Linked DNA regions of Homo sapiens: region 1 is linked to region 2. The links come from fine-mapping of genetic effects on gene expression. A gene starts in region 2. The other region holds a variant in brackets. All regions are shown on one strand. Distances are between the middles of the regions. Region 1 holds the start of PPP6R1 (protein phosphatase 6 regulatory subunit 1). Region 2 holds the start of TMEM86B (transmembrane protein 86B).

Region 1 (10,437 bases), 34 kb after region 2:
ACCAGATACTGGCAGCATTCCCCCCAGTTGTAACAACCAAAAACATCTCCAGATATCGCCAATCGTCCCCCAGGGGACACAATCGCCCCCAGTTGAGAGCCACTGCAATGGACATTCCCAAATCAAATAATAATCGAAAGAACGGCCAGGTGTGGTGGTCCATGCCTATAATCCCAGCTCTCTGGGAGGCTAGGTAGGAGGACTGCTTGAACCCACGAGTTTGAAATCAGCCTGGGCACCACAGCAGGGCACCAGAGCAAGACCCAGTCTTTACAAAAAATACAAACATTAGCCAAGCGTGGTACAAAAACACAAAAATTGAGCAAGCATTGCAGGACGTGCCTGTAGTCCTAGCTACTTAGGAGGCTAAGGTGGGAAAATCACTTGAGTCCAGGAGTTCAAGGCTGGGCAAACGAGCAAAACCCAGTCTCAAAATCATCAACATCAAAACAGCTACTGATTGCAGAGTGTCATGTGCCTTGCATTCTGCCACAGGCTTCTACAAACCCTGCACTTAATCCCTAGATCCACCCTCTGAGGAGAGCAGTCTGCTATCCCCACTTACAGACGAGGAACAACTTGTCCAAGGTCTCGCTTGGCAGAAGCCGGACTCGGCCTAGGTCTGTCTGGCAAAAGATCCTCTAACAATTAGCTGGACTGCCTTCTCATGATCCCAATCCCAGAACTAGAGTTAAAAAAAAAAAAAAAAAAAAAGCATAACATTTTCAACAGCACAAGCAGCTCCAACAGCCATCCCACCACTAGTAAGCACACGTGGCCGGGCGCCGTGTCTCCATGTGTGTTGTGCATGTATGTAAACCAAGTCCTCATCCTGTGTTATCCAGGCAATCTCGAGTCCTTGCTGCATTTGCAGCGCACGCTAACAGTTAGACCCTCGCCCTTGGGCTGGATGAAATCCCACTGCAGTTTCTCTACAACTGTGAACCCAGTACCGCACCTGACAGTCTACGCAGCTTCCTTTCCTGAAACATCTTGCCTTTCAGGCGGGTGTCTATGGTCATGTCTGTGTGTACTACGAGCGAGCAAGAAAGACCCCAACCAGAGGTCCCATTCGAGGCCTGGATAAGCACGCCGGGCGGAACTACTCTGCCCCTCACCCTCCCAATACATCTGCACTCAGGACTCCGACCTTCCTTCCTTGACATATCTGCACGTGCTGCTCCTTCCCCCCCCGGAAGGCCCTTCTTCCCACTCTCCATCTGTCACCTCCTACTCATCCTTCCTAGACAGAAAAAGCCGTCCGTCCAGTCAGTCTCACCAGTGCCTCCCGCTCTGTGGCCCCCTGCAGCTCCCTAAGTCACCTCGATCACGACACGCAGGAATTGTGACTGTCCGGCTCTGCCTTTGTACCCCCTCCAGGGACCGGCCCCACCTCCAGGGCAGGGCCTAGGGCTGATGCCCCCTCCTCGGTGCCCAGCGCCAGGCTCCCTGCCTGCCCTCAGCAGGCTTCATCTCACTGAAGCAGGCCCGAGTGGTGGCTGCTCCAGAGAAGCCCCGCTCCCAGGTCCCTCGCACAAGAAGCCGGAGGCGGGAGAGGGTCGGTCAAGGTGAAAACAAGCCCCGCTCCTCCAGTCCTGAGCTCCGGGGATCTAAGGAGGCTGCGCCACGGAAGAGGTGGCGGGGCAGAGATCGGGGCGAGAGGGAAGGGTGTAAGCAGGCAAAGTCCAGGGTAACCAGGGAGAAAGACTCCTGGGGGGCCGGGGAACCGGCCAGAGAGGCAAGAGAGCGGAGCTGAGGCTCAGGGACTGGGGAGCGCAGCTGCAGAGAGCGAGTGGGAAAAGGCCGAGAGCAAGAGACTGAGACTAGGGTGGCGGCGGAGCTGAGGTGAAGAGATTAAGAGACTGGGGAGGGTCGAGGGGGAAGAAACGGGGTGCCGTGGAGAGGAAACCCGAAGGAAGGAGGGAAAGGATCCGAAGCAGAAAAGACCCGCGGGGGTCCCGAGAGGGAAAAGCCTGAGGGGACGCGGAGAGGGGAAGACGTGGGCGCCTGGCCCTGGAGAGAGAGGGTCGGGCGACGCGGGCCGCTCACCTGCGAGGGGGGGCGGCGGCTCCTCGCACTCGGGGCTCATCGGGGCGCCCCCCCCCGCCCCGCCGCCGGCGGCTCCGGCCCCTGCTGCGGGGCCCGGTGAGTGGGGGCGGGGGCGGCGTCGGGGACTCGCGCAGGCGCCGGGGCTCGCGGGGTCCGCGCAGGCGCCCGCGGGTCGTGGGGTCCTCGCGCGCCGGGTCCTGCAGAGTTGAGGGGGTCAGCGCCGGGTGGAGTTGCCGACGGGCGGGGGGCGTCACTAGTCCGCGTAGGCACCTCCGGGGTCCGCAGGCGAGGTGGGCGTGCGGGCCGAGGCGGGTTGGCGAGCCGGGTCGCGAGGCCCACGCAGGCGCCTCAGCCGGGAAGACGGGGGAAGTTGCCCCGGTTTCCACAGTCCAACCGAGCGCCCCACGGGAGGGGAAGGCGACCTCCTCCGCGGTCCAAACGGGCCGCAGAGCCGAGCAGCGACCGACGGAAGCCGAGGCCTACTTCCTTAACCACCCCTTCCCCAAAGCCGCTCAATCTCCGGGCTCTGCGGCCGGCCTCAGGGCCTCCGACGCCCGGCTCCCTCCGCCACTATCCCACAATCCCCCTAGCGCAGGACGACGCAGGAGGCCCCGCCCTCCCGCGGCTGTGTTGGTGCGCAGGTGCGGGGGGCGGGGTGCACGCCTGGGCGGTGCAGTGCGCGTGCGCCCGGGCGCTCCCGACACCGCCCACTCTTGAACCCCGCCGCCGCAGACGCGCTTGCGCCCGTTGGTGCCAACGGTCTGCCCCGGAATAAACCCAGACAGCTCAGTGAGCCGCAGCTGCGCACCGGCTCCGTTCCAAGGCCCCGTGAATATTCCGCTCCAGGATTTCCCTTCCCACTCGCTCCGTTTGGAAATCCGTTCGCTGTTCTGTCTCCTCTAATCATAGTGGAGCTTTGGCTCCAGGGTCGGGCTCTTGCGAAATCCAGACCTGGTTTTCGCTCCAGCCAAAGCCAGGCGCCTTCGTTCCGTCCGGCTCTCGCGCTTAGCCGCCTCCGAGCCTCAGAGGCCCTCAGTCGTTTCCGTCTGCTGGCGATAGTCCCGGCCGGGTCGCTGGTGTTGCCAGTTCCGCCCAAAGCAGCTTCTAATAGCATCAACTGAAAGAGACCTCCTAGACCTTGTGTCTAGATTGATGAAGGTCCCTCTGGCTTTGAGCCTCGGTTTCCCCAACTTTAATAGCTCCCCTCTCTACCCATGTTAGAGGCCTACTGTAAAAATCGTGTGGGCGCGAGGAACTTTTTTGTTTTTGTTTTTGTTTTAAGACTCCGAATTGGCCGGGCGCGGTGGCTTACGCTTGTAATCACAACACTTTAGGAGGCCCGAGGCCGGAGGATGGCATGAGACCAGGAGTTGGAGACCAGCCTGGGCAACCTAGGGAGACCCCCGTCTCTACAAAAGAAAATTTAAAAAATTAGTTGGGCCTGGTGGCCCGCGCCTGTGGTCTCAGCTATTCGGGAGGCTAAGGCAGGAGAATCGCTTGAGCCGAGGCTGCAGTGAGCCGGATTGCACCACTGCACTCCATCCTAGGAGACAGAGCGAGAACCTGTCTCAAAAACAAAGGGCCCAGCGTGGTGGCTCACGCCTGCCTGTACTTGAGCTCAGGAGTTCAAGACCCCACGCCTATAATCCCAGCACTTTGGGAGGCCGAGGTGGGCGGATTGCCTGAGCTCAGGAGTTTGAGACCAGCCTGGGCAACACAGTGAAACCACGTGTCTACTAAAATACAAAAAATAGCCGGACGTGGCGGTGTGCGCCTGTAATCCCAGCTACTCAGGAGGCTGAGGCAGGAGAATTACTTGAACCCGGGAGGTGGATGTTGCAGTGAGCCCAGATCAGGCCACTGCACTCCAGCCTGGGTGACAGAGCGAGACTCCGTCTCGAGAAAAAAAAAAAAAAAAAAAAAGAGCAAATTCACCCCTCCTTTGCCCTCTTTGTTCTATTGAGACCCTCAATGGATTGGATAATGCCAGCTCACACTGGGGAGGGAAGATCTTTATTCAGTCTACCGATTCAAATGCTAGTCTCTTCCAGAAATACCCTCATAGACACACCCATAATGTTTTACCAGCTATCTGGACATCCCTTAGCCCAGTCAACACCTGAAATGAACCATCACAGAGAGGCATTTCCTTTTCTCTTTTTTCTATAGAGATGTTTTGTCTTTTACCCAGCATTTGGCTTCCTTGTTTTCTCCACAATATGATGGCATCATTGCCACACTGTTTTAACACAGAGGTCAGGAACTGAGGGATAAGGATGTGGCTATAGTCCCTACCCTTCAAATGGAAGCTGGGAAGCTGTGGGGGCTTTAATGACTGAAGTCTGGATTTCCACCCAGCAGAACTCACAGATATACATTGTGTTTGCATTAGAATTGAAACTTTTTTTTAAGAGACAGGGTCTGGCTCTGTCGACCAGGCTGGAGTGCATGGCACGATCACAGATCACTGCAGCCTCGAACTCCTGGGCTCAAGCAATCCTCTCGCCTCAGCCTCCCGAGTAGCTGGGACTACAACTGGAACTTTTTTCTTGAGACAGGATCTCAGATCCTGCAGCTACCTCTCAATTTATCCTGGATTTAGGAAGAGGAGTGATAAAAACCAATCCAAATAGACTCAAAAATCCCAGAT[C/G]CACCAGAACAATCCACACAAAAGGAATGAGTCTGACATCAAATTGTCCTAGGAAACCAGGATACAAGAAAGAGGAGGATTGGCCGGGCATAGTGGCTCACACCTGTAATCCCAGCACTTTGGGAGGCCGAGGAGGGTGGATCACCCTGTCAAGAGTTCAAGACCAGCCTGGCCAAGATGGTGAAACCTGGTCTCTACTACAAATACAAAAATTAGCCGGGCGCGGTGGCAGGCGCCTGTAATCCCAGCTACTTGGGAGGCTGAGGCAGGAGAATCTCTTGAACTCGGAGGGTGGAGGCTGCAGTGAGCCAAGATCGGGCCACTGCACTCCAGCCTGGGCAACAGAGTGAGACTCCCGTCTCAAAAGAAAAAAAAAAGAAAGAAAAAGAAAAAGAAAGAGGAGGATCGCTCTGGAATTAGTCCAGCTGTGAATCCTGGCTGTGAACTTGGTCAGGGGTCAGCCTCCTCTGAGCTCAGCCTCCTCTCTGGAAAAACAACAGCTTTCAAAGCTCTTGTCTACAAATGACAAAATTTCTTGTAGCTAAACAGAAAAGGAATTTATTAAAGGAATTGAGGCAGCCTCCGACACCCCCACCTCCCGCCCCAATCCCACGTCTCTGAGAAAGCTACAGAATCCGCTTGGCGCTTTGCAGTCAGGAATGAAGCCCACACCCAGCCACAGGCCTGCTCCTGAGACACAGTGCAGCCTCCATCAACGGCACCTGGCTCAGACACTCCCGCCAGAATCTCTGCCAGCCCTGTCCAGAAGCCAGGTGTGGCTGCTCCTGCACTAGCCAGAAGGGAACCTGGGCAGGGGCCCCTCCACCGCCAACTCTTGGCCCGACGACCGGCGGGCTCTGATTGGTAGAGGAGCTAGACCACCAGCGGGTTCTGATTGGTGTACAAAACAGATTCCCAGAGAGAGTTCTGATTTGTGGAGCTAATGTCACATGATTACCCTACAGCAAAGGATGCTGGGAAGGGAAATGGCGGCTACCCTAGGGAAAATTTAGATGTCTAACCTGGGAAATTCCTCAAACCTAGAATTCAGGTTTGCCAGGTGGCCGAAAAAAGGACAGATGTCCCACACACTGTTGCTCAGGAAAGACAGGGAAGAGTAAATGACACAATGGCTCTATAGATGATAAAGAGCAACACTTTTATTATTCTTCCAGTGGCTCCCCAAGTCCCTTAAACCCGTGCCCCTCCTCCCGTCCCCCATGCACCCTCCAAAGGAGATGACAAAGGCGGCAGTGAAGGAGGAGAAGGAGGAAGAGAAACACCTTTATTGGAAGAGCTGTGTGGACAAGAGAACGGGGATGAGAGTGAGAGCATGGGAGGTGGGGTCCAAGGAGCTGGTGCCTTTCTCAGCGCCCCTTCCAGGGACTGCACAGAGACGGGCTGGCACACCCTGGGTCCAGGCACCTAGGCCCTGCGATCCCTTGGGAGAGGGCCTTGTAGGTGGGGAGGGAGGCAAGAGGCCTGGGGTTCCCACGGAGAAGGGGGCAAGAAGCCACCTGGTTTCACCGATCCATGCTGTCGTCCGCTGGGCTGGAGAAACAGGTCTGTAGCAGCTTTTCACAGAACTCCAGCTCCTCCTGGATTGGGCAGGGGCAGGGAGCAAGGGGCCTGAGTGCAGAGGCCGGACCCTGCCTCCAGCATTCTTGGCACCCAGAGGTGACTCCTCTTCTCTCCTGGCCACCACCCACTCCCCCCCACCAGAGGTTAGGCTTTTTTAATCACTGCTCAGATCCATGATTCACTGTCTTCACACTGGTGTCTGAACTACTTGAACTAGAACCCGGGGTCCCCCAGACTCGTCTCACTCCATTGGTCTGCCTCATATCAGCACTCTTGGGCTCTTTCTAACTCCCAGATATGGACCACTGCTCAAAACTTTCTGCGGATACAAACCCCAGAAACCATGAAAGAAAGCACTGAGAGGTTAAACTACGTAATATAAAAAATACTCCCATGGCAAAAAAAGAAAAAGAAAACGAGGTTGGAGAAAAATATTTGTGATTCATAGCACAAATGGCTAATATACTTAACTCTTAAAGAGCTTAAAAAAGTCATTCGCAAAAACCATCACCCAATAAATAGATAAGTGGGCAAAGGATGAGAACGAACAGTTCACAAGAAAGAGAAAAGATGCCAAATTTCACTCATGGGAGAAATGTAAACTGGACTGGAGTACTACTTTTCAACAATCAGTTTGAAAAAAGGTCAAATGGTTCATCGAGGCCACTTTGTCCTGACCAAGATTTGGGGAGTTGGGCACCCTCATGACTGGAGTGTCAATGGTTGAACTTCTATGGAGAGCAGCTTGGTGATAGCTAATGAAACGGCCCTTAACCCTTTAACCTTCACCTTTAACATACCTGACCCCAGCCATTTCCCTTCTAGAAATTGTTCTACAGACATATGTAATAACATATACAAAAGGTTATTCTTTCAGCAGTGTTTGTCATAGCGAGAGTGTAGAAACAACCTGCATATCCATGCTACAAAAAAGAGCCCATCCGCACTGTACAGCTGCAAAATGAAAGAGCCACAGGCGAGACATGCAATGCCCACAAAGCAAGGGGCAGAACAGCCATCACAGCACGGCAGGCTTATTTTGCATAACATAGAGAAAAAGGAGAATTCACATGCACCTTTGCTCGTGTGTACCTAATATTTTAAGAAGGACACCTGAGCAACTGGGTAGCCAGAAGGAGGGGCAGGAGAGAGACTTTTCACTGTTTACCCTCCTGCGGGTCTTGTATTTTCAACCATGTGACTACGGAACCTATTCACAAAGCATTAGTAAAATCTGTTACAAATCTAATTTGAATGTTTCCACGGGTGTATACATAAGTCAAAACTTCTCATGTAGTACACTTTTTTTTTTTTTTTTTTTGAGATGGAGTCTCACTCTGTCGCCCAGGCTGGAGTGCAGTGGCGCATCTTGGCTCACTGCAACCTCCGCCTCCCCGGTTCAAGCGATTCTCCTGCCTCAGCCTCCTGGGTAGCTGGGATTACAAGCACCTGCCACTATGCCCAGCTAATTTTTTGTATTTTTAGTAGAGATGGGGTTTTACCATGTTGGCCAGGCTGGTCTCGAACTCCTGACCTCATGATTTGCCTGCCTCGGCCTCCCAAAGTGCTGGGATTACAGGCGTGAGCCACCATGCCTGGCCATGTAGTACACTTTCAATACATACAGACACTTGACAGTGTCTACACAGGAATGAATCTAATAGAATATAACGTCCCAAGGAGGTGGGTGCGTTTGCTAAGCTCGGCTTTGCTGAAGCACCAGCATTGATTCATTCACTTCAACAAATTAATGCATTACTTAATCAGTTAACTATTTGAATTTTAATTAGTTGTGATTTAGCATTTGTTACTTATCTAGTTATCTAATGAGTTATTTATTTGCCCCTTATCTAATTAAATATCTGATGACTTGTTATTTATCACTTGTTATTTACCCAAAATAATTGGTTATTTTTTGCCATTTGTTATTTCTTGTCAATTTAATGAAATAGTTAAATCATTAAGACATTTGAGTGATATTATATTCAATTTACATTTACTTAATGTAAAACAACTGTATTGGGTAATTTAGATAATAATTCAATGATTGGGCAACACTTTAAGAATCTCCAAGCTCCTGTCTCCTTGCTGTCTCTCCTACTCTGACACAGCACGGGACGAATGCTAGGCATGAAATAAACATCTGCTGAATGGAAGATAAGTGAAATGCACGAGAACACGAATGAAAGCCTGAACCAGCGGACCCAGGAGCCCCCAAGGGCAAGGACTGGCTGGCTCTGCCCCTACTAGGGTCCCCACTACCACACTTGGTCTAACCTGGGGAATTCCTCACCCCCCAGGCCCCTCCCCCTCACACCTGGTCCTCCTCACACCCTGTCCCTTCCCCAACTCACCTGGTCCTTCTGGAGCCGCTGTCCCCTCCCCCGGCACACGATCCTCCTCGAACCCCATCCCCTGCCCCTCACACCTAGTCCTCCTTGCACCCCGTCACCTCCCCGTGTACCTGGTCCTCCTGGAGCCCCTGTCCCCTCCCCCTGGCACCTGATCCTCCTCGAACCCCATCCCCTCCCCACACACCTAGTCCTCCTGGAGCCCTTGTCCCCTCCCCCTTGCACCTGGTCCTCCTTGCACCCCGTCCCCTCCCCATGTACCTGGTACTCCTCATGCTGCTGCAGCAGCTGACAGCGGTGGCGGAGGAGCTCCTCCAGGCCCAGTTCCGGCTCCCGACACTCGCGCACACCCTGCGGAAAGTCTGTCACCAGGCTGTGAGGGACATGACAGCGGCCCTTAGGACCTCCCTCTAGAGGCCTCACTGACCCAACCCTATCGCCCGCCCCGTCCCCTGGCTCACTCAGGAGCCTGGCAAGTCGCTGCCCCACAATGGGCCTCCATTTCCCCATCTGCGGAATGGACCTCACGCTGCCCCTGGCCCAGGGTGGGTGCTGAGGGGCTCAGCACAGGGCCTGGTGCGTGTCAACTCTGGTGTGCTGTTGAGAGCTCCAGCATCATCTGATTAGACACTAATCCACTGGTGGGGGCGTGTACAGAAGCCTCTCTCCCTCCTGCAAGGCCTCTGTGCCAGCCCTACTGGTGAGGAAACTGAGGCTCCCTGACTCCTGCTCCTTTCTGGCCCCACACCCTTCCTCTCTACGGGAAGGTCCCAACTCCTGAGTCCCTACGGGCTGATTCCTGAGCCACCCCCACCTTGAGAGGACGGGGCCCCCACCCCAGGCCCCGTCCTCTCAAGGAGCCAAAGTACCTGCACAGGGCTCCAAGCACGTGCTCGTGGAAGGGGCTGTGCTCTGTCCGCACCAGGGCCACCAGCTGCTGGACCATCCCCATGGAGCACAGGGTCCCTGGGGGGAGGGCTGCAGGGGTCAGAGGGGCAGCCCCACCCATCTCCTATGCCCTCCCCGGGATGCCTGTTCCTCCCCTTCTCCCACACCTGCACCCACCCCAGGGCGTCTGCTCCCCACTCCTGCCCTCACTCAAGGGCTGCCACACCTTTGTGTTCAGGGTGGCCCACCAGCAGGTTCTGCAGCAGGAATGCTGATTTGACCTTGAGCTTCTGCACCTGCTGCTGCATGGCCCTCATCAACACAGAGAAGCCGTCCAGGCGGAGGAACTGCAGCAGCCCAGCCTCCTGCTCTCGGACCAGACCTGGGAGAGGGGGAAAGGTCCTGAGCTTGCAGTCACCACCACCACCACTGTCATCACAAGCACCATCACCAACATCATCACAACCACCATCACCAACATCATCATCACCACCATCACCACTATCTTCACCACCATCACAATCATCATCATCACCATTCTCATCCTCACCACCATCACCATCACCACCATCCTCACCACCACCACCATCACTATCACCATCACCACCACCACCATCACCACCACCATCATCACCATGACATCACCAACATCACCATCACTATCACCATCACTATCACCATCACCACCACATCACCATCACCGCCATCATCATCACTACCATTAACAATATAATTATCGTCAATCATCGTCACCATCATCACCACCAACCACTATCATCCCTTGCCATGGGCCTGCATATGCAAGCATTATCTTTTTTTGAAGTATGCTTTTGAGATATAATTCACAATCCACACAGTTCAGCCTTTTAAAGATATTCACAGGGTTGTATAACCATCACCACTAACTCTAGGAAATTT
Region 2 (10,437 bases):
AGGCTGGTCTCGAGCTCCTGACCTCAGGTGATCCACCCGCCTCAGCCTCCCAAAGTGCAGGGATTTCAGGCATGAGCCACCTCGCCTTTCAGCCCACACAATGAAGGTTTATGAAGCCCCAGATTCCAGGGCCTCCACCACAACCCCATCTCTGCCACACTTCTGGTCCCACTGGGGGCCGTGGTCCCTGCCCACTGGACCCAGTAGGTGTAGGTGTGGGGGTCTGGGCCCCGGGGGGATATACACCTTAGTGTAACAGAACTCAGGGTCTGAGCCTGTATCCTCAGATCCATGACCTGGCCGGGTAAGGAAAGGAAGGGAAGGGGGTCAGGGTTCCTGCAGGAAGGTTATCTGAGTGGCCTTAAACAGACCCAGTTGTCTCTTACTTGTAGTTCTCAAGAGTAACAGTAGAATGTGCTGGGAATGCAACATCCGGAGATATGGAGGGACTGGCCAGGCGGCCTGGGCTCCATTCCTGCCTGCCCTAGAAACAGGATGCCCTTCAATGCTTGAGCCCGGTGACTCAGGTTTCCCCCAGAGTAGAAAACCCAGGGCTGGGTACTTTTTGGGGTCCCTCAGCTGCCATACAAGTGAGGCACACACAGTTGTGACCCTATCCTCCCTAGGCCACTTTCCTAAGCCTTGGGGGACCAGCTTACAACGGACCCTGGGATTCTGCTGTCCCTTGCTGCCCATCTGTGAGAAACAAGCCCACTTCATGTAACTTTTTGCGTGTGGCGTTCTGTCTCATCACTCTGGCAAGTTGGTAACCAGTGCACAGTGAACCTGCTTCACAGACCACACCCCATAGTCCCTGGGCCTCCAGAGCAAAGGGAAGCATCCCCTCCTTCCCACAGCCCTGCTTGCTCTGGAAGGATGCACCCTATCAGTGGGGCCGATGCCAGAGGCCTCCTGAGGCCTCCTACTCCCCAAGCCCAGAGTGCTCTCACCCCTCGCCCGTGGCCTCTGTGAGCGTCTGGCTGGGGCTGTTGACCTCATGCTTCTGGGCCCACATGCTGGGGTACTGCGTCCCTGCAGCCAGGCCCTCCACAGGCACCCTGATGTCTGAGGAGTCACTGGCCCAGCAGAGCCAGTAGGGGCAGGTCTTGGAGTCTGGGCCTGCGGGGCCCTCAGGGTGAGGGAGCTGGTGGTCTGAGCCGGTGTGACCAGGCCAGGGACTAGTTTGGGAATGTGGAAAGGAGAGAGTCATTTGATAAAGTTTGTTTGTGGCTCTAATGAGAATAAAGTGCACAGCCTGGCACTTTTTACAAATGTGCACACGCACGCACGCGCACACACACGCAAACACACATGCACACACAAGTGCACGTGCACACACACGCACATGTTGCTGGGCAGTGGAAAGGTGGCCCCTCTTACCTGTAGACATGCTCAGGACGTCCCTGGGGCCACCTACTCCTTTCTTCTTGGCCCACACAGAGGTGGTGTAGAGGGTCCCAGGCTGAAGCCCTCCACCACGAGCCAGCAGTGTGACGTGCTTGTGTTCCCGCTGGCCATGCCCCTGGACCCAGTAGATGGAAGTCTGCCGGTCTGGGCCCTTGGGGCTGCCCAGCTCAGGGTGATGGAGCTGGAGGTCCGAGCCTCCACACTCACGATTCTGTCTGCTTTGGCGGCTGACATGGGTAGAAGCCTCTGCGGCAAACAGAAGACGGAATCCCACGGCCCTTCCTAGACGTGCAGGATGGAGGCTGATGGGGTCACTAACCTGCTGCTGTGGCCTCTGTCGTGGTCCCGAGGGCCTGGGGAGGGCCCAGATGGGGAATCAGACCCACGGTGGTCTGACCTGCAGGATCGGGATGAAGGCTGCTGAGTCCCACCCCGCCTCATCCCCACCAGCCACCCCGGCTTGGGAGGGAAGATGGAGCCGGCGTTTTGCCCCTTGCCCCAGGTCTGGGTCCCGGCAGGGCTGGAAGGAGCCTGAGAGGGATGTGCGCAGCACCTCCGAGAGTCCCGCTTTAGAGAAACACGAATCAGATCATGAGAAAGCAGACCTCTGAGAAGTCAGATGAAAGGTCGTCGGGGGACCAGAATCAGGGAGGAGGGACACGACGCTGGGGCTGCTGGATGCCGACAGGAGAGCAGCGTCCCGTCGCTCTGGACTGCCGACCCCACAGAGCCCAGGGACCAAAAGCCAGAATGTTCCCCAAACACCAGGGATTATGGGCCCAGCCCCTCCTCCCTCAGACTCAAGAGTCCAGGCCCCCAGCCCCTCCTCCCACAGACTCAGGAGTCCAGCCCCTCCTCTCCCAGACCCAGGAGTTCGGGCCCCCAGGCCCTCCTCCCTCAGACTCAGGAGTCCAGACCCCAGCCCCTCCTCCCTCAGACGCAGGAGTCCAGGCCCCCAGCCCCTCCTCCCTCAGACCCAGGCCCCCAGCCCCTCCTCCCCCAGACCCAGAAGTCCAGGTCCCCAGCCCCTCCTCCCTCAGACTCAGGAGTCCAGACCCCCAGCCCCTCCTCCCTCAGACCCAGGAGTCCAGACCCCCAGCCCCTCCTCCCTCAGACTCAGGAGTCCAGGCCCAGCCCCTCCTCCCTCAGACTCAGGAGTCCAGGCCCAGCCCCTCCTCCCTCAGACTCAGGAGTCCAGGCCCCCAGCTCCTCCCTCAGACTCAGGGGTCCAGGCCCCAGTCCCTCCTCCCTCAGACTCAGAAGTCCAGGGCCCCAGCCCCTCCTCCCTCAGACCCAGGAGTCCAGGTTCCAGCCCCTCCTCCCTCACCTCCAGGAACCCCTCATGTCTGCAGGCCCCACGTGCCCCTGGAATCTGCACACCCAGACCCCCGTCCCTCCTGCTACACTTCACTGCGCAATTTCCTCTTTCCCCACCTTTCGCCAGGTCTGAGTGGAGAGGGTAGGAGATGAGGAGGAAGTGGAGGTTTCGAACCTGAGTCCAATCCTTCAGATCCTCCTCATGCCTGACCCTTCCTCAAGGAAATCCCTCAGCTTCCACTTCTCCTCACTCCAACTGTGGATTCCTGTCCTCACTTTCCTTCCTGGTCCCCGTCCTCCAGGCTCCCCACCTTCCCTTCCCACCTCTGTACTCTCACATCTGAGTCCCTAAATGCAGGTCATGGATGGAGAAGTCACCTCTCTGCTGTAAGAGTCCCTAAATGCTGGCCATGGATGGAGAAGTCCCCTCTCTGTCGTAAGAGTCCCTAAATGCAGGTCATGGATGGAGAAGTCACCTCTGCTCTAAGAGTCCCTAAATGCAGGTCATGGATAGAGAGGTCGCCTCTCTGCTGTAAGAGTCTCTAAATGCTAACCATGGATGGAGAAGTCGCCCCTCTGCTATGAGTCACTGAAAGCACATCATGGATGCAGAAGTCAAATAGGGTCTTGGAGAGCAGCTTGGACCCTGTCAAGTCTTCAGATGCAGAATCTGAGGACCTGAGGGATAGCAGCTTGCCGAGGTCACACAGCCTTGACAAGGAGCACAGCTGGGTTCCTCCTTCCCATTTGATTCCTACCCCCTTGCCGCCCTCCCTCCTCCAAGACCCCTCATCCTCAAGCCTCCCACCCTTCTCCCGATACTGCATGTGACTGCAGCGGGTTGTATCCCCTAGAAAGATATGTCCAAGTCCTAACCCCAGATACCTCTGCAGGTGACACTACTTGGAAATAGGGGCTTTGCAGACATACTTAAGGATCTTGAGATAGAATCACCCTGGGTTTAGGGTGGGCCCTAAATCCAATGACCTGTGTCCCTAGAAGGATGCGGACACAGAGGGAGGCTGCCAGTTGAAGACAGTCACATGAAGACGGAGAGACACAGCCACAGGCCGATGGAAGCCAGGGATTCCCGGGAGCCTCCAGAAGCCGAGAGGGCAAGGACGGATTCTTCCCTGGAGCCTCAAGAGGGACCATGGGCCGGAAAACACCCGGATTTTGGACTTTGGGTCTCCAGAACTGCAGGAGAGTCCATTCATCTTGTTTCAAAGCATCTGGCTTGGGGTAATTTGTGACAGCAGCCTCAGGAAACTAACACAAAGACCAAACAGTCCTCTTGGCTCAGTTCTGCACAATCCTCACTTTATCCCCCCGAATCCCCCCACCAGAGGGCCATGGAGGGTCCCACTGGGCACCAGGCCTGGTCCATGGGGAGCGACAAAGAACCTTCTGCTGTCATTAACCGCGATGGTTTATCACAATCATGACCCTCCCCGAGGCCTCTCCTACGGTAACAGCAACATCTACGGTTCCACACCCACAGGGAAAACGGATTCAGAGCAGCAGCAGGGGGCGGGCAGGCTGTGGGGCCGACAGTGAACATGGAGGCAGGCTGGTGGCTGGGAGGGCTCCATGTGGGCCTGGCTGAGGAGCCAGGGATCTGGAGTCAGAACCGGGGGAAGGCAGCTGGAACCCAGTAGTGGACTTGGAATTCCGCAAATCGTCCTCAAACGTCTTCAGCCAGAAGCGACGGCGGCAGCGGCGCCTGCAGACAGGCGTCAGGAAGCTTCGCTGCTGAGGGTATTTCTCAGGCTGGGCTGGGCTGGGAGGCCCAGGTCCTTGCAGGAGGAGAGGGCCTGAACACCGGCCCTTCAAGCTCCCTAGTCAGTCAGTCTTGGGCACCGGGCTCCTGAGGGCTGACAGTGTGATGAGGAGCTGGGCAGCATAGTAGGTGGTCATGATCACCAGGTGGGCATGGGGCAGGGGCTGGGCGAAGGTGTCCCAGGCCAGCACGCCATCAGAGAGCGTGAAGAGCAGCGCGCCCCAGCCGGCACTCCCGCCCTGGGCCAGGCCGCGCCACAGCATGGCCATCAGGATCAGCCCATAGGCTGCCACCGGCAGGACCATATCCGGCTCGAGGTGCTGGAGCACAAGGCTGAGGTAGGGGCCAGGGGCCAGGATGATGAGCAGCAGCAGGCCGGGCTGCAGGGGAGAGAAGCCGAAGGCCCAGACGTAGAGGAGGTGGGCGGTGGCAAAGGCGGCCATGCCTGGCGGGAGAGGGGTGGGGTACCAGTGAGGAAGGCCCATCCTGGGAATGGCCCCGAGGTCACCCCTCAGGGCCTAAGAGAAGGACCATCCCAGAGCACCAGGCCCCACCCTGGCCGAGCCTCCTTGCAGGTCTCCCCACATGCAGTGTCCATCCTTGCTCTGCTCAGAACTGCCAGGAGGCCCCACCTTCCCTTGGCCTCCAAAGCCCCATGGCCTCCAGCTCTCCAGCCACTCTGCGCCAGCCACCCTGGCCTGCTGGGCTACAAGCACCTGACACGTCCCTGCCCCGGAGCCTTTACACTCGCCCTTCCTCCACACAGGCATACAGCCCTTCAGCTCTGCCCAAATGTGACTTCCTCAGTGAGGCCTTCCTCAGCAACCCTGCTTCAAACTGCAGTACCTCCAGCAGGTCCTCACTGCCCTCTGCGCCACCTCAGCTACTGCCCTAACACCGCCTGCCCCCACCCCTCGCTGGAGCGTGAGCTGCCTCGGTCACGGCTGCGCCCCCCACTGTGCCTTTGACCACTGGAGCTCTCACAGGAGCCCTCTGCACCCAGGCTCCCATCCAAGTGCTGGGGCCTCTCTCACACGGGCATCTGGAAAGCGTCACAGCACCTTCCACTCACCAGGGACGAAGGCTGCCGGCCAGATGAGGCAAGCGTCCCCCACAGCCGAGCACACAAGGGCTCCCTGGAGGAGCTGGGTGTAGCCCCCGCTTGGGGACATGACCCACAGGAACCCAGCCAGGCAGAGGACGGGCAGGCACTTGACCAGGGCAGCGAACCAGGACAGCTGGTCCTCGGGAATCCAGAGGCAGAAGTACACGCAGCAGGAGAGGATGAAGGGGCTCAGCCACCTGCAGACATCTGGGCGCTTTGGGGAGTGGGGAGCTACTGAGCCGAAACCCAGCCCAGCCCCCATTCTTGGGACTCAGATCTCATGGCTCCTGTCCCACCCCCACCTGGGACCCCAGCTGTACAGGCTGGACCCATTCAGGGACCAGGCTGCCAGAACCCAGCTTCCCAGGGCCCAACCAACTCAAGGACAGCAGCTCCCAGACCCGCCGGCTGCTGGGGTTCCAGGGCCCTGTCCCCCCAGCCCCAGGCACAGCTCAGAAGGCTCTCACCTGGGCTGAGCAGTGAGTCTTCAGGGTCTGCCCCGCTTTGCCAGCGTCCATGCTGGCCTGATAGCCCCAGAGCGACCTAATCTGGGAGCGAGTGGCTTCAGGGGGTGGAGGGGAGGGCTCATGGTTACACGTTAACCCAAGGAGCGTCCTGTGGACTCTGTGACTGATAACAGGGCCCAGGGAGATGTTGTCCTCACCCTGGGGATGGCCCTGCCTGGCGCCCGCTGATAAAGCACTGTTGGCACTGGGGGTCCCTCTGCCCTAGCCTGCTGGGACATGGCTTCCTCCTCCTATCTGCCTGGGGAGGTTAGGCCCACAAATGCCTGTCCCCTTGTCCTGGGCCCCAACAATCAGAAGAGATGGGGTGCAGAATTCCAACAGCCACCCCATCATGGGAAGCGGGAGAGGGGCTGGCTGGCAGGAGTGCCCCTGGAGGGATGGGAAGGCGAGTCTGTCCTTCACTTGCTGCCCTAGCCGTCTCCCTCCCTGCTCCATGAAACCTTTCCTCATTCTGCTCAACCCCACCAAGCCCTCAGGGGCTCCACCACAAACACTGCTTCAATGGGTGACCAGGAGGGACCACCACGAATGCGGGGAACAAGCACCCTCTCCTGTTAGCTGAGCGAGCCCCCAGGTGACCTCCAAGCCAACTGCCACCCCAGTGAGGACGCTGTCCTCATGGCCCGGTCCACACGCTCCGGTTTCCCAGCGCCGCTCACCGGTGCCACTCGCTGCACACGCAGCCTACACTTCTACCTTCTACCTGAAAGACTCAGACCTACTGGGCGCCAGTACCCAGCCTCAATGCTGGGCTTGGTTACTGGGGGTAAGCAGGGGCAGGAGCAGGGATTTGAGCCTGTCGGTGGCTTCTATCCTCTGCCCAAGGCCCTGCCCACAGGTGGGGTAGACCTGGCAGGAGCCCTCACAGCCAGTGCCTGGCCCAGCCTGGGGCCTCTGCAGCCACAGGGCTCCCTCTGGCAGGACAGTGTGGGGGCAGACTGGGTCAGGAGCACCCCCAGCCTCTGGGGTGCAGGGATAATACAGGCTCCCCACCCCGCATCCCAGAACGTAAGGTCTGACCAGCAGAATCGTAAACTGCCTTCCTTTATTTATATTTGCAATATGAAATAGAAGCTCGGCACAAACGCACGCACACTCACACCAGCCTGGGAGGAGGGAGCTGGGGACAAGGTCACTTGGCAACAGGGCTGGGACCTCAGACCCTCAAGGCCCCTGGGGCTGTTGCCGGGGAGGCCCCTGCTCCCCAGAGCCGGACTGGCCTGGTTGAAAGTGCAGGGTCTGGGCAAAGGCACGGCCCCCACTCGGGACCCTCTGGCACCCCCACCCACGCTGGGCCGTCCCCCATGGTGGACCTGAGCTAAAAGGCCGGGTGTGGGCGTGGCCGTCTGCGCTGCAGCGTGGGACAGCTGGGCACGTGGGTGGCAACCTTGGGACCCCTAACACCAGCTCCCGCTGGGACGGAACAGGGAAGGCTGTGCTTTGGAGCCGCCAGCCCAGTTCGGTGTCCTCACTCTCTCTCGCTCTCCTCCCTCTCTCTATATAATATATAATATATGTTTCTCTCTCTCCATTCTCTCTATTTGACTCTCTGTATCTTTATTCTAGGAGGCAACGCTCCAAAACTTCTCTTCTCAGTGCAAATGGGGGTGGGTTGGGCCTGTCTCCCTGGCACCAGCCTCCTGGGGGTCCAGAGGAGAGAATGTGGGGGTGTCAGGGTGATGAGGGCAATGGGGGCCATCGTGGGACCCGCCCTGCCCCCACCCCGGGAGATCCACGGGAGGACGGAAGATTTGGCCGCCGCTGCCGCACCAGGCAGCTATCTGGAAACAGAGGGAGATGTCGTGTGAGGGTCTAGCAGGCCCAGCCCCACCTACCCAGCCCGAGGCTGCAGCCACACTCACTGGGAGCCTGGGGATGCAGGCCCTTCCGGGGCAGAGCCATTGGGTATCGGAGGAGGCGTGAGGGCCTGGGCACTGTCAGGGGAGAGAGGGGATGTGCAGAGGTCACTTCCTGCCCCACCAGCCCCACCCCCACCCCCCCGCCCTGCTGCCCTGGTGCTCACCTCTGGCTTTGGGGAAGCCCCAAGGGCTCTGGGCTCTTCTCCCCTTCTGTGGTCTGGGGGGGCTGGTGGGCCCCGGAGGCTGGGACAGAGGTAGAGGGGTCTCTGGTTGCACTGTGGGTGAGAGGCAGGTGCGGCTGTCAGCGTGGCCCCCACCGTCACCTGCTGACACCCTCACATCCCACCCGACTGAAGTCGGCTCACTGGGTGTGTGTCTGCCACCTGCCCCACGGGGAGGGGCCTCCCGAGGACGCAGCTGGCTCAGCGTGGAGGGACAGCACAGCCCTGGACAGGAAGACAAGCACCCCTCTTCCCGCCTCCTGTCCCTGTGGAGGAGGTACTCGAGGCCGGCTGAGACAGCCCCAAAGGGTCTTCTGCATGCTCTCACCCTCCCAATCCTTCACACCCTCCAACGAGCCCTTCCCAACCCTGGGGCTCAAGGGCCCCAAGCATCCCAGGCTACTAAGAGAAGAACCAGCCTACAGAGTGCAAGGGGCTGGGGCACAACATGAGGCTGCGCCTGGGGGTCCTGCAAAGGAGGCCTGGAGCAGCTCAGGGACAAGATGAACCCAGAGCCCACCTCAGCGAAGAGGAGAAAAGACTTCTCCCGATACTAGGCAGCCCCACCTCGCTGCTCACCTGTCCGAGGAGCTGGGGGCAGAACGGATCCCGTGGAAGGTGGCCTGAAGGTCCCCGATGCTAACCAAGGCCTGGCAAGGGGCTGTGGGGGATAAGAGATCTCAGCTGCAGCTCCCAGCAAGCTCGGAGCTGGCCAGGCTGCTCTCTCTGCCCAGGGCCGCGGGTGGGCAGGGCAAAGCGGGGCTCACCTGAGGGCTCCGTGACTTTGCTGCCTTCTGTGGCTTCCTGAGGTGCTGAGGGGGGTGTGGGGTCCTGAGACCTGGTAGGCGAGAGAGGCAGCCCAAGGGGGCAGCTAGGGTTAGCACTCGAGCCTATGAGAGGACGGGGACCCCATGGCCACCTCCTGGCCTCGGGATACCAGCACCATTTAGCCCGTTCCATCCGGTTCTCACCTGAGCTGCAGGGCGTCACGGGCAGGAGGGCTGGCCAGGCTCTGAGTGGGGAGGCCCTGGGGCACACTGAGGGGCCCCTGTGGGGCTGGAGGCCCAGTGTGCAGCTCTTCCTCCCCGGAGACTCGGGGGCTGGTCGGGGCATCTGTAGGCACTGGGTCAAAGGTGGCTGTCCAGCTGGGGCCTGGGATAGAGGTGGGGGAGCGGGATGGAGGGTGAACTCAGTAGCAGGCAGACAGCCCTGTGTACACCTGACCACACCGCCCATTCATTCACCTGGAGGCTGAGGGCCAGGGCTGGGGTAGGACAGAGGGGTGGCCCCTCCACGGGCTGCACAGCCAATGCCCTCCTCGTCTTCCTCCTCCTCCTCGTCCTCCTCTTCTTCGTCCTCACTGTCTGTGCTGCCTCCACTCCTGCCCCAGAAACCACCTCGTCAGCTAGCTGTGTGGGACAGACCGGCCGACACCCATCCTGTTCCCTGCAGCCCAGGGTCAGCCCAAGGAGAGCGGGCTGGGATGACAGGCAGGTCACAGAAGGGTCCAGGGAGCCTGGGGTGTGACGACACCAGGAGAGGCTGGGAGAGGGAGTTCTGAGCCAACGGCAAGAACACAGGCGGGCAGGGACAGAATGCGGCCGTAAGGAGACCGTCCGTCGCCAGTCATCCGTGGAGGGCAGGCCCTGGGGAAGTGGGCTGAGCCTCAGCCATGGCAACCAGAGCAGACAGACCCACTCACCAGCTCTCAAGCCACCTCCCAGCCGTCACCTCACACGGTCACCACAGTGACAGGCCTTCCCACCAGCAGGCCCACCCTCTGGACAGAGGCTTCACACTACTCTCTCCCTCCAACTAGAAACTCCAAGAAGGCAGAGATGGCTGAGTTTTGCCACTGCTGTATCCTCAGCCCTGAGAAACCACCAGGCACCCATAGCTGCTCCAAAAACACTGGCTGAATGTTGACTAACACACACCTGTGAGCATGAAGAAAATCCAAGCAACCTACGTGCTGATCAACCGGGGAAGGGGTAAGCAAAGTAACACTAAAACTAAGCTTTAACAACGAGGGTGCACTCTGAAAAACGCCATCATTAGGCGATTTTGCTATTGTGTGAACATTCTAGAGTGCACTTACACACACCTGGATGGTGGCGCCTCCTGTACACCTAGGCTCTGTGGTATAGCCTATTGTTCCTAGACTACCGACCTATACAGCATGTTACAGTACTGAATACTACAGGCAATTCTAACAATGGTA

What was found.
Region 1: its variant is fine-mapped to the expression of TMEM86B in whole blood (TOPMed, PIP 0.91).

What each region holds. Positions count from the first base shown.
Region 1 is chr19:55,256,386-55,266,822 of GRCh38, forward strand. It overlaps PPP6R1 (protein phosphatase 6 regulatory subunit 1), which reads right to left and starts at 2,632. Exons shown (of 24, transcript NM_014931.4): 1 at 2,050-2,632. It overlaps HSPBP1 (HSPA (Hsp70) binding protein 1), which reads right to left. Exons shown (of 8, transcript NM_012267.5): 5 at 9,746-9,901; 6 at 9,501-9,597; 7 at 8,893-9,004; 8 at 5,838-6,297. The coding sequence ends at 6,223. RefSeq lists silencers at 712-905, 2,090-2,149, 2,320-2,419, 2,550-2,829, 2,736-3,030 and enhancers at 1,880-2,854, 2,860-3,059, 3,090-3,139, 3,220-3,269. The variant C/G (reference allele first, on the strand shown) is at 4,700.
Region 2 is chr19:55,222,615-55,233,051 of GRCh38, forward strand. It overlaps TMEM86B (transmembrane protein 86B), which reads right to left and starts at 6,149. Exons shown (of 3, transcript NM_173804.5): 1 at 6,077-6,149; 2 at 5,577-5,823; 3 at 4,024-4,949. The coding sequence starts at 6,127. The coding sequence ends at 4,567. PPP6R1 (protein phosphatase 6 regulatory subunit 1) reads right to left here. Exons shown (of 24, transcript NM_014931.4): 18 at 9,461-9,597; 19 at 9,188-9,368; 20 at 8,984-9,054; 21 at 8,796-8,877; 22 at 8,160-8,270; 23 at 7,999-8,070; 24 at 7,165-7,917. The coding sequence ends at 7,914. It overlaps MIR6804 (microRNA 6804), which reads right to left and starts at 8,338; the gene lies at 8,271-8,338.